Linked DNA regions of Homo sapiens: region 2 is linked to region 1. Evidence: fine-mapped expression QTL. Tissue or cell type: whole blood. Region 1 holds a variant in brackets; the other region holds the start of a gene. All regions are shown on one strand. Distances are between the middles of the regions.

The links. PIP is the estimated chance that this variant, and not a neighbour inherited with it, causes the effect.
Region 2: DCAF4 starts here. The variant in region 1 is fine-mapped to the expression of DCAF4 in whole blood (INTERVAL, PIP above 0.99).

Annotation. Positions count from the first base shown.
Region 1 is chr14:73,152,714-73,160,713 of GRCh38, reverse strand. All of the region lies in intron 3 of PSEN1 (presenilin 1), which reads right to left. Among named protein-coding and RNA genes, the nearest start is that of PSEN1, 20 kb to the right of the region's middle. The variant G/A (reference allele first, on the strand shown) is at 3,588.
Region 2 is chr14:72,921,584-72,929,583 of GRCh38, reverse strand. DCAF4 (DDB1 and CUL4 associated factor 4) reads right to left here and starts at 3,120. Exons shown (of 14, transcript NM_015604.4): 1 at 3,041-3,120. It also overlaps the pseudogene RPL36P3. RefSeq lists enhancers at 1,546-2,410, 3,082-3,351, 3,642-3,741, 4,142-5,008 and a silencer at 2,852-2,911.

The DNA of each region.
Region 1 (8,000 bases):
TACAAATAGCCAACAAGCACATGAAAAGATGCTCTACATCTGTGTAATATGGGGGGAAAAAAGAAAAGATGCTCAACATCACTAATCATTAGAAAAATGCAAAAAAAAACTACACCCGTTAGGATGGCCACTACCAAAAAACAGAAAGTAACAAGCGGTGGTAAAGTTGTGAAGAAATTGGAACCACTATGCATTGTTGGTGGGAATGTAAAATGGTGCAGCCACCATGGAAAACAATATGGAGGTTCCTCAAAAAATTAAACTACCATATGACCCAGCAATCCCATTTATATAAATACCAATGAGTATATATAAAAACGAACTGAATTACAAACAAGACCTCAAACAGATATGTGCATAGCCACTTTCACCATAGCATTATTCAGTATAGCCACGAAGTGGAAGTAACCCAAATGTCTACTCACAGATATGTGGTATATACATAACACAGAATATTATTCAGCCCTTAAAAAGGAAATCTTGTCACATGCTACAATATAGATGAACCTTGAGGACATTATGCTAAGCAAAATAAGCAAGTCACTAAAAGAGAAATAATGTATGATTCCACTTACATGAAATATCTAGCCAGCTGGGCATGATGGCTCACACCCATAATCTCTGTATTTTGGGAGGCCAAAGTGGGAGGATTACTTGAGCCCAGGAGTTTGAGATCAGCCTGGCCAATATGGCGAGAACTCGTCTCTACAAAAAAATTAAAAAATTAGCGAGGCATGATAGAGTGCACCTGTAGTTCCAGTTACTCAGGAGGCTGAGGTGGGAAGACAGCTTGAGCCCAGGAGGTGAAGGCTGCCATGAGCCAAGATCATGCCACTGCACTCTAGCCTGGGCAACGGAGTGAGATCTTGTCATCAAAAAAAAGAAAAAAACTCAAGTAGTCCATGTTATAGAAACAGAAAGCATATTGCCACGGGCTGAGAGAAATGGAAAATGGGGAGTTGTTCAATGGGTATAAAGTTGTCCAATGAGTATAGAGTTTCAGTTTTTCAAATTCAAAAGCCTCCCCATGAGAACAGCCTTTGACCCATGACTGATGGAACAGATTGACACATATATGGACAACTGATTTTTGCAAAGGTACAAAGGCACTTCAGTGGAGAAAATAGTCTTTTTTAAAAAACAGTGCTGAAACAATTGAATATCCATATGCAGAAAAATGAACTTTGATCCATACCTTGGACCACGTATAACAATCAACTTCAAAAGGATCACAGACCTAATGTAAAACATGAAACTATAAAGCTTCCAGAAGAAAATGCAGGAAAAAACTCCTGAGAACTTGAAGTAGGCCAAAGTTTCTTAAGATGTGACACCAAAAACACAATCAATGAAATACAAACGGAATTAGCTGGGTGCAGTGGCACACATCTGTAGTCCTAGCTGTTTGGAAGAATGAGGCAGAAGAATTCTTTGAGCTCAGGAGTTTGAGGCTGCAGTGAGCTATAATCACACCACTATACTCCAGCCTGGGTGACAGGGCAAGACTCTGTCTCTTTAAAAAAAAAAAAAAAAATCTGCCCTTCAAAAAGCACTGTTAATAAAAAGAAAAGCCACAGTCTGGGAGAAAACACTTGCAAATTATATATATTACAGAGGACTTGTATCCAGACTATGTAAATAATTCTTAAAATCCATTAAGAAAGCAATTTTTAAATGGGCAAGAGATTTGAACAGACAAGTCACCAAAGATATCAGGATGACAAGCACATGAAAAGAAACTCAACATCATTACTCAATAGAGAAATGTAAATTAAAACCAAAATGAGATGTAACTATATACCTTTTTATAAGAGCTAAAAAATTTAAAAGACTGACAGTATCAAGTACTGACAGGATGTGGAGGAACTGGAACTCATACTGCTGGTAGAAATGTAAAATTATACAACCAGTTTGGAAAGTTCTTTGGTAGTACCTTAAAAAGTTAAATATAAGGCTGGGCATAGAGGCTCATGCCTATAATCCCAGCACTTTGGGAAGCCAAGGCGGGAGGATCACTTGAGGCCTGGAGTTCAAGATCAGCCTGTGAAACATAGGAAGACTCCATCTTCTATAAAAAATATAAATAAAAACTGGCCAGGTGTGATGGCTCACGCCTGTAATCCCAACACTTTGGGGGGCCGAGGCAGATCACTTGAGATCAGTAGTTCAAGACCAGCCTGGCCAACATGAAGAAACCTAGCCTCTACTACAAATACAAAAATTAGCTGGGTGTGGTGGCAGGCGCCTGTAATCCCAGCTACTGGGGAGGCTGGGACAGGAGAATCACTTGAACCCAGGAGGCAGAGGTTGCAGTGAGCCAAGATCATGCCACTGCACTCCAGCCTTTGCTCCAGATGGAGCAAAACTCCGTCTTAAAAATAGATAGATAGATAGATAGATAGATAGATAGATAGATAGATAGATAGATAGAAAAAAAAGTTAAATATACACCTACCATATTGGATCATATTCTACTCCTAGGTATTTGCCCAAGATAAATTAAAGCATATGCCCATACAAAGAAAGATCTGTACATGAATATCCGTAACAGCCACTATCTGTAATGCTTCAGAACTGAAAATCCAAATATCTACCAACAAGTAAATAGATCAAAAACTGTGGTATACAACTCAGCAATAAAAAGGAACCACATAACATGGACGAATTTCAAAATAATTATGCTGAAAGAAAGAAGCCAGACAAGAGTCTGTATGTTTTGTTTTTTTTTTAGACAGAGACTCACTCTGTTGCCCAGGCTGGAGTGCAGTGGCACAATCTCAGCTCACTGCAACCTCTGCCTCCTGGGTTCAAGCAATCCTCATGTCTCAGCCTCCTGAGGAGCTGAGATTACAGGTGCACGCCACCACCCCTGGCTAATTTTTGCATTTTTAATAGAGAAGGGGTTTCATGTTGGCCAGGTGGCCTCAAGTCATCGCCCACCTCGACCTCCCAAAGTGCTGGGATTACAGGCATGAGCCACCGTGCCCGGCCTGTATGATACTATTTATATAAAATAGTATCATAATAGTAAATGGCTGCGCGCGGTGACAAAACATGGTTGCCTGGGGATGGGGAGGAATCAGGGAGGAGAAGGAGAGATTACAACAAAACATGAAGAAACTTCTGGAGGTAATGGACATTTTCATTATTTTAACTGTGGTGGTGGTTTCAAGAGTATACATATATATCAAAACATCACACTGTATACTTTAAGTATGTACATTTTACGTCAATTATACCACAATAAAGCTGTTTTTAAAAATGTATCTTTCTTGGGCTGGGCGTGGTGACTCACGCCTGTAATCCCAGCACTTTGGGAGATCGAGGCAGGCGGATCATCTGAAGTCAGAAGTTTGAGCCCAGCCTGGCCAACACGGTGAAACCCCATCTGTACTTAAAAAAAAAAAAGTATACAAAAAAATTAGCTGGGTGTGGTGGTGCGTGCCTGTAATCCCAGCTACTCAGGAGGCTGAGGCAGGAGAATCGCTTGAACCCAGGAGGCAGACGTTGCAGTGAGCCAAGATCATGCCACTGCACTCCAGCCTGGGCAACAAAAGAGTGAAACTCCCTCGCAAAAAAAAAAAAAG[G/A]TATCTTTCTCAAGGGAGTGTGTAGGTGCTTTGAAAAGTGTCAAATGAGAGGAAAGTGGTACTAGAATACTGAGGGATTTCCGAAAGGAAAAATCTTGGTAGCTAAATATGAGAATGATGACTTAAGCATGCATGGTATTACCTGTAAGACCATTTTAAAAAAAAGGCCAGGCGTGGTGGCTCATGCCTGTAATCCCAGCACTTTGGGAGTCCCAGGCGGGCGGATCACAAGGTCAGGAGATCGAGATCATCCTGGCTAACACAGTGAAACCCCATCTCTACTAAAATTACAAAAAATTAGCTGGGCATGGTGGCGGACGCCTGTAGTCGCAGCTACTCTGGAGGCTGAGGCAGGAGAATGGCGTGAACCTGGGAGGCGGAGCTTGCAGTGAGCCGAGATCATGCCACTGCACTCCAGCCTGGGTGACAGAGCAAGACTCCATCTCAAAAAAAAAAACAAACAAAACTTTTTATTATGGAAAAAGTTCAAACAAATACTGTCAGAAATGTACAATGAAGCCCATGTGCAATTTATTCAACTTCAATAATTATGAACTCATGCTAATCTTGTTTCATCTACTCCCCCGCTCACTTTGCCACTCCAGTATTATTTTGAGGCAAATCTTAGATATATCATTTCCTTCATAAATATTTTAGTATGTATTTCTAAAAGATAGGAACTTGAAGCCTTTTGCATTTGTGGCTTGATAGCTCTTTTCTTTCAAAATATTATTTTTATTTATATTATTTATTTTATTATTATTATTTTTTGAGACCGAGTCTGGCTGTGTTGCCCAGGCTGGAGTGCAGTGGCATGATCACTGCTCACTGCAACTTCCACTTCACAGGCTCAAGTCATCCTCCGACCTCAGCCTCCCAAGTACCTGGGACTATAGGCACATGCCACCACACCCAGTTAATTACTATTAGTATTATTTACTTTTTTTTTTATTTCATAGAGATGGGGTTTCACCATGTTGCCCAGGCTGGTCTCAAACTCCTGAACTCAAGTGATCCACCCGCCTCAGCCTTCCAAAGTGCTAGGATTACAAGTATGAGCCACCAAGCCATAAAATATTTTTAAATGCAAACTTAGATCCACAGCAAAACTGAGCAGAAAGTACACAGAGTTCCCACATAACCCCTCCAACAGCCTCTATCAACATCCTGCACCACTGTGGTAAACCGTTACAACAGATGAACCTACATTGACAGTCCACAGTTTACCTTAGGGTTCACTTTTTGGTGTTATACAGTCTATGGGTTTGTATAAACAGATAATGACAGGTTTCCATGATTACAGTATCATACAGAATAGATTCACTGCCCTAAAAAATCTGTATGCTTCAGGAGGCCGAGACGGGAGAATCGCTTGAGCCCAGGAGTTCAAGACCGGCCTGGGCAACATAACGAGACCCCAGCTCTACAAAAAAAGTGAAACTAACAGCAAAAAAAATTAGCCAGGCATGGTGGCACACACCTGTACTCCCAGCTATTCACAAGGCTGAGATGGGAGAATCACTTGAGCCCAGGACTTACAGGCTGCACTGAGCTATGATCACACCACTATACTCCAGCCTGGGTGATAGAAGGAGACCCTGTCTCAAAAAAAAAATAATAATGATAATATATATTTGATTCTATGCTAGACATATAAATATACCTCATTCTTAAATATGGCAATTTTGATAAGAAATGTTAATATTTATTGAACAAGTATGTGCTAGGTAGTGTACTAATCATTCAGTTTATCTCATTTAATTTAAATAAAACTCTAAGTTAATTGCTATAAACTTCATTTAACAGATAAAGAAACTGAAGTTTAGCGAGGCCAGTTAATTTGCCAAAGATCATAATGCTAAGAAGTTCTAGAATGGAGATTCAAAGTCCAACTGTTTAGTCAAGAGACCCTACTGTTAACTAGTACCTTTACACTACTAACTGGGTAAACCATAAGCAATTAATGATAAAGATTGAGATTACTGCCACATTCTCACTGTTATAAATAAAACTTCAATAAAAATTCTTGGCACTTCTATGGTAATATTTTTATAGGATAAACTTTCAGAAGTGAAATGCTAGGTGAGATCAGATTAGGTTAGATTTAATTGCTAAATTATTTCCAAAAGGCATGTGTATCTGTAGATTCAATTAAGAGCTTGCCTCCAAATAAATACTAACTTAACTCCAAAGAACACAGCATACAAGAAAGCCTATTTCCCTACAACCTCAGCAGCAGTGTATCAATTTTAACTCACTGATAGGTAAGAAGTGAAGTTTTAATTTTTATCCCTATTAGTAAGGCTGATCAACTAGGCTTTTCATATATTTATTGCCATTTCTATTTCTTACTCCATAAATATTGCTTGTAACCTTTGCTACTGAGTTAAGTTGTTCATGTTCCTTTTAATTTCATAAGAATTCTATGTATATTGGGATATATCTGTCATATATTTCAAGCCTTTGTCCTAGTTTGTTTTGGACTTTGTTCATGGCAGTTTTTGCCACACATTTTTTTCTTTTTTTGAGGCAGGGTCTCACTTTGCTGCCCAGGTTGAAGTGCAGTGGCATGATTACAGCTCACTGCAGCCTCGACCTCCTAGTCTCAAGCAATCCTCCTGCCTCAGCTTCCCAAGTAGCTGGGACCATAGAAGCACACTACCACACCCCACTAATTTTCACTTTTTTTTTTGTAGAGACAAGATCGTGCTATGTTACCCAAGCTAGTCTCAAACTCCTGGCCTCAAGGGATCCTCCTGCCTCAGCCTCCCAAAGTACTAGGAATACAGACATGAGCCACCACACCTAGCTCTGCAATTAAGTTTATAATTGTGTGTAGTTGAATATGAATTTAGGTAATTTTATAAAGAAAACAGAAACTTATTTTTACGACACCCCAAATGCTAACGTTTTTCAATATATACACACAGGTATACATAGTTGTGTTTACAAATATTATATTCTGCCCTTTTCCCTTAATATTTCATGCACGCATGTAAGCAGTTAACATGCCTACGTGGTTATAATGTATTCAATTATGCTGATATATTTATAGTCTGAATATTTACTTAAAATACATTTTTTCAATAATTAATATTTGTAAGAAAATGTATTGGCAGGCACGGTGGTTCATGCCTGTAATCCCAACACTTTGAGAGGCCTAGGTGGTCAGATCACTTGAGGTCAGGAGTTCGAGACCAGCCTGACCAACATGGTGAAACCCCATCTCTATCTAAAATACTAAAATTAGCCAGGTGTGGTGGCACAACCCTGTTAATCCCAACTACTCGGGAGACTAAGGCAGGAGAATCGCTTGAACCTGGGAGGCAGAGGCTGCAGTGAGCCGAGATCGCACAACTGAACTCCAGCCTGGGCGACAGAGGGAGGCTCCGTTTCAAAAAAAAAAAAAAAAGGAAAGAAAATGTATTAATCCTTTAAGACTTAATGGGCAAAAAAAAAAAAAATGACTTAATGGATATTGTTTGAATTTCTACAATGACAAATGTGGGGCTCTAAGCCTGCTCTGTAGGACAGGACTAGAAGAGTGGCTTAACCAAAGAACTGGCAAGTTAAGTGGAAAACTTGAAAACATTTATTAATCATAGGGAACATGCTTCCAACAACACACATAATTCCATTCAGCATCTGACCAAGCTTTGTGATTCCCTGGAGTCAGAGGTTTAACCATTCCTCTAATGCCAAGAAAGGCTGTCATTTCCACAAACAGTTGACATAACTGGTTAGAGATAATACTGAACACTTATGGGGCTGTTATGTTAGGCTTAAGCCTAAAGTTTCTTAACATATTATTAATATTTGTGCCTAAGAGATTTTACTCATGCAAAAGCTAGCATGTTTCTCTGGAGGTCGTTGAGATTTCAAGTTCTTTTTTGCCTTACTCCACTTTAACACAACTGAGAAAACAAATTCATAACTATAATGATACAACAACACTGTCAAAGGCTAACCAGAGCTGCAGATTCTATTTAAATTTAGATCACCCATTTCATTTATTTTTTTTCTCCTCAAGGTCCTTTAAATAGCTCATAGGTTTGCTTTTTGTCTATGTATTTATTTGAGACAGGGTATCACTTTGTCACCTAGGCTGGAGTACAATGGTGTGATCTTGGCTGAATGCAGCTTTGACCTCCCAGGTGAACCTTGAAACCAATCCTCTTGCTTCAGCCTCCCAGGTAGCTGGGATTACAAGGGCGCACCACCACACCTGGCTAATTTTTGTATTTTTAATAGAGACAGGGTTTCACCGTGATGGCCAGGCTGGTCTGGAACTCCTGGCCTCAAGTAATCCACCCACCTTGGCCTCCCAAAGTGCTGGGATTACAGGCGTGAGCCACCATGCCCAGCGAATATTTCTTTTTTCAAATGGAGACTAAGAAACATAACTGAAGCTAT
Region 2 (8,000 bases), 230 kb after region 1:
AAAGAACAGCTTGACGGAAAAATAAAATAAAAATAAAAAATATTTTTGTAGAGACGGGGTCTCGCTTTGTTGCCGCCCAGGCTGGTCTCGAATTTCTGGCCTCCAGCGATCCTCCTGCCTTGGCGCAGCGTTGGGATGACAGGCGTGAGCCACCACGCGCGGCAGCAAATCTGAGATTTAACACAGAGAGCCAGTATGTGCCCAGCGTATGTGTATGTAGTGCACAGAATATGTGGACCACCCTCTATAAAGGTTCATGCATGAGGAGGTCGGCTCTCTCTCACAGTCTAGCAGTTTTCCACACAAAAGCGGCACACATTTTTGCACCGGTCTCCAAAATGGTGTCTGGTTTGGGAGCCCGCAGCTTCCGGAATTACAGGCTCTTTCCTGCTTCCAGGGCACCATTCCAGGCCTGGCCTCAATAGGCCCAAGGCGCAGGCCCAGAGGAGGCCGGGCGGGGTGGGGGGCGGGGTGCGCTACACCCAGTAGGGAGCAGCCCCGGGCGTCCGTGCCGCCCGCAGTGCTGGGACGCCCAACACCGACCAGCCCCGGAGCCAAGTGTGGGGGATGGCAGCCCGCACACATCGGGGCTGGCCTCGCCTCCCCTGGGAGGTAGGCTTGACAGCACAGGGGGTCGGTCCAGCCTTAGCACGGGGCCAAAACTCAGAATGGGGGAGGGGCTCCATCTCCCCTTGGGGCTCTCCAGTTTGGGGGCCTCGGGGCTGTTCTGGTTTCCAGGCTGAGCCTCACCATCTTGTTTAGCACATGGTTAGGGGGCCTGGACTGGAGCCCAACAACCGGGGCTCTGAGACTGGGGCACCCTGGGGCCGCGGGGTTGCTTCTTGGGTGGATGAGAATGTTCCAGAATTAGACAGTGGTGATGGTTGCACAATCTTGCCAATATAATAATAAAAAAACCCACTGGATTGAACCCTTTTAAAAAAGTTAATTTTAGGGTATGTGAACTATATATATATATATATATATATATATATATAAAGGATGTTTACTACACCATGCTGTAATAGTTAAAGTGAGAAACATCCTAGATATCCAACAACAGGGGAATTTTGTAAGAGTCTGTAGACTGGCCGGGCGCGGTGGCTCATGCCTGTAATCCCAGCACTTTGGGAGGCCGAGGCGGGCGGATCACGAGGTCGGCAGATATGTGAGACCATCCTGGCCAACATGGTGAAAACCTGTCTCTACTAAAATACAAAAAGTTAGCCGGGCGCGGTGGCGTGCGCCCGTAGTCTCAGCTACTCGGGAGGCTGAAGCAGGAGAATCCCTTAAACCTGGGAGGCGGAGGTTGCGGTGAGCCGAGATCGCGCCACTGTGCTCCAGCCTGGGCAACAATAGTGAAATTCCGTATCAAAAAAAAAAAAAAAAAAAAAAAGTGGGGGGATTCTGTAGACTAGCGGGCTGTAATGTGCAAAACGCTAACGCCACTGGTCTGTAAAGCTGAATACAAAGTAGCTTCTACAGGCCAGGGCGGTGGCTCACGCCTCTAATCCCAGCACTTTGGGAGGCTGAGGTGGGAGGATAGCTTGAGCCCAGGAGTTCAAGACCAGCCTGGGCAACATAGTGAGACACCCCTCCGCCCCATCTTAACAAATAATTTAAAAATTAGCCGGGTGTGGTGGTGCATGCCTATAATCCCAGCAGTTAGGAGTTGTTCACTGTAAAACAACATTTTAGACAGCTGACTTAAAAAACAACAAAATTTTCTCTTAACACTTATTTAAGAAATACTTCAGGCGCAAGCTTTGTACTAACGCCCACCCTGAGTTGGTATTTTCAATCCTATTTTACAAATGAGGAAACAGGCTTACAGGACTAGGTACCACACCCAGCGTAAGTTAAATGGTGGAACAGGGATTCCACCTCTGTTGGTAGGACCCCCAGGCCTGGTTACCCACAGAACACCACCTCAGGCCGGGCGCGGTGGCTCACGCCTGTAATCCCAGCACTTTGGGAGGCCGAGGCGGGCGGATCACGAGGTCAGGAGATCGAGACCATCCTGGCTAACACGGTGAAACCCCGTCTCTACTAAAAATACAAAAAATTAGCCGGGCGAGGTGGTGGTCGCCTGTAGCCCCAGCTACGCGGGAAGCTGAGGCAGGAGAATGGCGTGAACCCCGGGGGCGGAGGCTGCAGTGAGTCGAGATCGTGCCACTGCACTCCAGCCTGGGCGACAGCGAGACTCCGCCTCAAAAAAAAAAAAAAAAAAAAAAAAAAAAGAACACCACCGCGACTCTAATTTCCATCGTTATTTAAAATCAGAGTTTGGGACTTTGGAATTGTTTCCTCTAGGAAGCCGTCCCCTCAGTTTTCTTTGCTTCTGGCTGCGCTGCTGGAGTCACAAGACAATGCCTGTAGAACACCATGGTGAAAGGCGTCATGGTTTCTGAAGCCCCCGGGGAGCCCACGAGGCGTGGCTTTCTCGCTAACTCACAACTCAGAGTGGAGGCGAGGGCCAAACCCAGGCCCCATCACTTGCTAGTTGTGCGCTACCCCGACGGACAACCAAACTGCACCCCTTTCTGCGTCTGACAAGGACATCATAGCGCTGGCAAATGTTAGCGCCTGTGAAGCCGGCAGCACAGAGCCGGCCACTTCGTAAGCTTCAACCACACCTAACCTGTTATGCTGACCTGAACATTCACAGGGGACACCGCCCCAAGGCCCGCAGCCCAGCCCCCGCCAGGTGTCGGGTGGGGCCTTCAGCAGCAGGTCTCAGAGAAGCGCTTAGAGAAACGCCCTCAGCGGCGACACTCGGGGTGCCCTCCCTGCGTGTTTACGGTTGCAGCACTGATCCGGCCGGAGGGCCCCACGCGCCCCAGAACGGGCGGAGCGCGCCGGCCCAGCTGCCACCTAGGCCCGGTGGCGCCGGCGTTCCACGTGCTCACTCCTCCCCGCCCCTCCCCGCCCCTTTCCCTGGCCTTCCTCGCCGCGCCTGTCTCCCACCCCGAGCTCTGCAGCGGGAGCGCGGCAGCCCTCGAATCGATGCCAGTAGGCACCCCAGGCAGCACAGTCTTACCTGTTCAGCGTGTCCCTTCCGGATTCCCCTCCGGCTCAGCTCTGCAGGAGTTGGAGCGAAGCGTGCAAGGACCCGGAAAGACCAAGGTGTAGCGTCAGCCAGTTAGGTGGATGCGTTTTGGTGTTGTAGCAGCCGATAGGGCTATAGCGGCCGTTCTTTCCTTCTCACTGGACGCGGCTTCTGTCTGTCGACGTCAATAGGGACGATCTCATGAAGAAGGCGGGGAGTGGGGCTTCGGCTCCTCCCAGGCCTGGCCTGTCTGGGGCGGATGCACGTGGAGGCTGGTCATGGAGCGCTTGGGGGTGGGGCCAGGCGCACGCGGGGGCGGGGCCGGGGGCTGCTCCCGGAGCAGCGGAACTGTCTGGAGACCCTTTCGTGAGAGACCGTGTCTTCCTCCCTCCGCAGGGTGATGCGGCCCTGGAGAAGTCCTCTCGCTGTAGTGGAAAGAGCGAAGGAGTCTGTGAGGCGAGGGACAGAAGTAACGTGATGTTACGACTGGCGGCGAAGTCTTCGGCAGTGGCCTCAGGCGGCCGAGGCCGCTGCCCTGGGTCTGCGTTCAGGGTGTAGCGTAGCGAGCCCTGACCGTGAAACCGGGGGGCCTCCGTGTTGGCTCCAGTACTGCTGCTTGCTGTGGGACCTAGGGCGAGTCTCTTCCCTTCTCTGTGCCTTGATTTCTTCTGTTGAGAGAAGGAATCGGATCTATCATTCTCATGTCCTCTCCAGCTTAGAGTTTGTTCAGACCACCAATATTTCTAGAATGACCTATGTGTGCTGTGCCTGTCCCAGGTATCAGCTGACGGTTATGAGATCTTATGAAAGGAAAACGGAAGCCTCTGATGGGCTTGTGTCCCGAAGAGACAGTTTGTGAGGACAGCTGGATTCACAGAGGCTAGGCTTGTTGGGGTCCAGCAGTAGGCCTGGTGTGTCATGCGGCTCCGTAACACAGGCCCCTGCCCGCGGCTTGGACCCGTTAGAAAGCAGGCGGTGGGGTTCACCCATTGCACGCCGTGCGAAGGCATTTCAGCTCTTAACCAGGAAGCTAGGATTTCAGGCTAAACTCCTGGCTCTCAGGAGTTTATAGATAAATGCAGTATGTGGAGCGGGGCCGGGTGATGAGGGAAATGAGAGAAGTGGGCATAGTCAGAATAAAGAACCGCTTCATGAAGCTTGAGCGGCCTTGAAGAGAAGGCAGAGAAAAATTCTAGCTGAACAAACAACGTGACTGGAGGCCGGTTCAAGCCGGCTGGATGGGAGGGGAGTCTTGGAAGGAAAACTCAGCAGGGTGGGTTGGGGCTTGGTGACGCAGCAATTGCCAGGGAAAGAGTAGTCAGGCCGGGTGCAGTGGCTCACGCCTGAAATCCCAGCACATTGGGAGGTTGAGGCGGGTGGATCACTTGAGGCTAGGAGTTCCAGACCAGCCTGGCCAACATGGCGAAACCCCCAACTCTACTAAAAATACAAAAAATTAGCCGGGCGTGGTGGCGGGCGCCTGTAATCCCAGCTACTCAGGAGGCTGAGGCAGGAGAATTGCTTGAACCCGGGAGGCGGGGGTTGCAGTGAGCCGAGATAGCGCCATTGCACTCCAGCCTGGGTGACAGAGTGAGACCCTGTCTCAAGAAAAAAAAAAGTAGACAATGGGAGGCTCTGAGGGTTCTAGAGTTGGGAAGTGACAGGACTAGAGCTGTGCTTCTGGGAAATCACCGTGTAGGGGGTTGGGGAGAAAAGATTGTGGAAGTCAGCTGGGAGACCCCTAAGGAACTTATTGCAGCAACAGTCCTTGTGAAAGGTAGTGAGGGCCAAACCAGGGTGGGGGTAGCCAGGATGGAAGGGGGGTACAGATGGGAGGCAGAATTCAGAGGGAGAATCGGCCAGACTTAACTCTCGGGGAGGAGTCAAGCTGGATTTTCCACTGAAGAGCCAGGGGACACTTGAGGAAGGTGGCAGGAGGAGTTGGCTTGGGCTTGCTGAGTCAATGAGTGGCTGGCAGCCGGCCAGCAGGCTCTGTTGAATGTCCACAGAGGGGACAGTGACGTGGGCATGAGATATACCTCGGGGACCTGCAACACACACAGATGAAAGATTAAAGAATGTTTGCAAATCAGTGAACAAATGAAGCTTGCTGGGCCTTGGGCAAGTCATGAGGCATTCCAACCTCAGTTTCTTCACAGATTAGAATGAGGATAAGACATCTACTGAGAAAGGTTGTAAGGAGTAAGCGCTGATGATGGAGTACCTCACCCAGGACTTGGTGCACAGCGCCCATTGGTTAAGCACCCGCGATTATAAAGGTAGCATGGTATCTAGATGGTGTATATTACCTTCAAAAGTAAAAATTATTTTTTCATTTCATCTCCAGAATTTGAAGCCAAGGCAAATGTTGTAATGAAAAGGAATGAATCTATAGAAAGAGGTTGGAAAATATCTGGCACATGGCAAAGACTAAAACAATATATATATATTTTTTGTCTGTTTTGAGATGGAGTCTCACTCTGTTGCCAGGCTGGAGTACAGTGGCGTGATCTCGGCTCACTGCAACCTCTGCCTCCCAGGTTCAAGCTATTCTCCTGCCTCAGCCTCCCAAGTAGCTGAGATTACAGGCGCCCTCCACCATGCCTGGCTAATTTTTTGTATTTTTAGTAGAGATGGGCTTTTGCCATGTTGGCCAGGCTGGTCTTGAAATCCTGACCTCAGGTGATCTGCCCGCCTTGGCCTCCCAAAGTGCTGGGATTACAGGCGTGAACCACTGCACCCGGCCTTCAAATACTAGATCTTATTCATTCTTTCAAACTATGTTTTTGTACCCATTAGCCATCCCCACATCCTCCCATCCCCCAAAATATAAAATTTAAATGTTAATTTAAACAAATCAACATTTGTTTAAATCAACTGCAGAAGTTGTCCTTTTAAAAAAAGAAAAAACAGGCTGGGCGTGGTGGGTCATGCCTGTAATCCCAGCACTTTGGGAGGGAGAGGTGGGTGGATCATGAGGTCAGGAGATCGAGACCATCCTGGCTAACATGGTGAAACCCCATCTCTACTAAAAATACAAAAAATTAGCCAGGCGTGGTGGCGGGCGCCTGTAGTCCCAGCTACTCGGGAGGCTGAGGCAGGAGAATGGCGTGAACCCAGGAGGCGGAGCTTTCAGTGAGCAGAGATCGTGCCACTGCACTTCAGCCTGGGCAACAGAGCAAGACTCCATCTCAAAAATAAAAAAAAAAAAAATAAAAAAACACTTTTTTTTCTTATAGAGATAGGGTCTTACTATATTGCCCAGCCTGGTCTCAAACTCCTGGGCTCAAGTGATCCTCCTGCCTCAGCCTCCTGAAGTATTGGAATTACAGGCGTGAACCACTGCACCCAGCAGGAGTTGGCTATTTTAAGAGGTGACTTGTACGTAAGTTGCCACAGGAACTAGGATGCCTGTCAAATCACATCATGGAGACTAATCCAAAATAAAATCAATGCAAGAGAAATGTAATTAAATTAACATGCCCATTGTGGGGTAACAGTCCATCCAGGGCCTAGAAAAAGGATCATTTTCATCAGAATTTCTCAGTGTTTTTTCAGTAGTATCCAAGTGAGTGTCTTGGTCACTGAAAATCTTAATCTTTTTTTTTTTTGAGATGGAGTTTTGCTCTTGTTGCCCAAGCTGGAGTGCAATGGCATGATCTTGGCTCACTGCAACCTTCGCCTCCTGAGTTCAAGTGATTCTCCTGCCTCAGCCTCCCGAGTAGCTGGGACTACAGGCATGTGCCACCACGCCCGGCTAATTTTGTGTTTTTAGTAGAGATGGGGTTTCTCCATGTTGGTCAGGCTGGTCTCGAACTCCCAAACTCAGGTGATCCGCCCGCCTCAGCCTCCCAAAGTGCTGGGATTACAAGCGTGAGCCACTGCATCTGGCTGGTCACTGAAAATCTTGATATAGAACAATTCCCTAGTTCATTTCCTTTTTTTTTTTTTTGAGATGGAGTCTTGCTCTGTTGCCCAGGCTGGAGTGCAATGGCGCCGTCTCGGCTCACTGCAACCTCTGCTTGCTGGGTTCAAGTAATTCTCCTGCCTCAGCCTCCCGAATAGCTGGGATTACAGGCTCCCGCCACCACGCCCAGCTAATTTTTGTATTTTTAGTACAGCCAGAGTTTCACCATGTTAGTCAGGCTGGTCTTGAACTCCTGACCTCAGGTGATCCACCCGCCTTGGCCTCCCAAAGTGCTGGAATTACAGGCGTGAACCATCGCGCCCTAGCCTCTAGTTCCTTTGCTAACCTAATGAAATACCCAACAAAATTCTCTACACCTCTTTGTATGATTACGTATTCACCAAACTGCTGATGACTGACTCCATTATCATGATTTTGGAAAAGAGGGAGCCGTGGGTAATGGGCAAGAATATTCTAGACATCAGGAAGTTACATGTCTCAATAATTAACTGATCATATTCGTATTCTGTGTACTTGGGTAGACAAGCAGTTTCCAAGGATCTGGTCCCAATAACTTAATACACAAAATGTTGAAACCCATAAATCTGGGGACAAGATTTTGCCTCTAAAATACTAGTCTTAGCTGGTTAGCAGCCTGACCAATATAACAGTTAATAATGCATAATAATCTAAGAAAACTTGAGAAGCAGAAAAGCACAAAGTGAAAAAATACCCAAATTACCTGTGATAAATCTATCCCTCCAAAAAAACCACTGTTAATATTTGGATGTGTTTTTTCTAAGCATGTGTTTGTTCTAACTGTTTATATCTTTCAGTTATTAATTCAACAAATATTTATTGAGCACTTGGAATGCCAGATCTGTTCTAGGTGCTGGGAATGTAAGTACATTTTAAGAAAATTGTTTTTGAAAACAATCACAAACTAATAGAAAACTTCCAACTACAGAATTTTTCTTTTTCTTTTCCTGAGGGTAACCACTGACTTGATGTGTCATCAGTCTGGAATACTTTTAGTTTGTATTT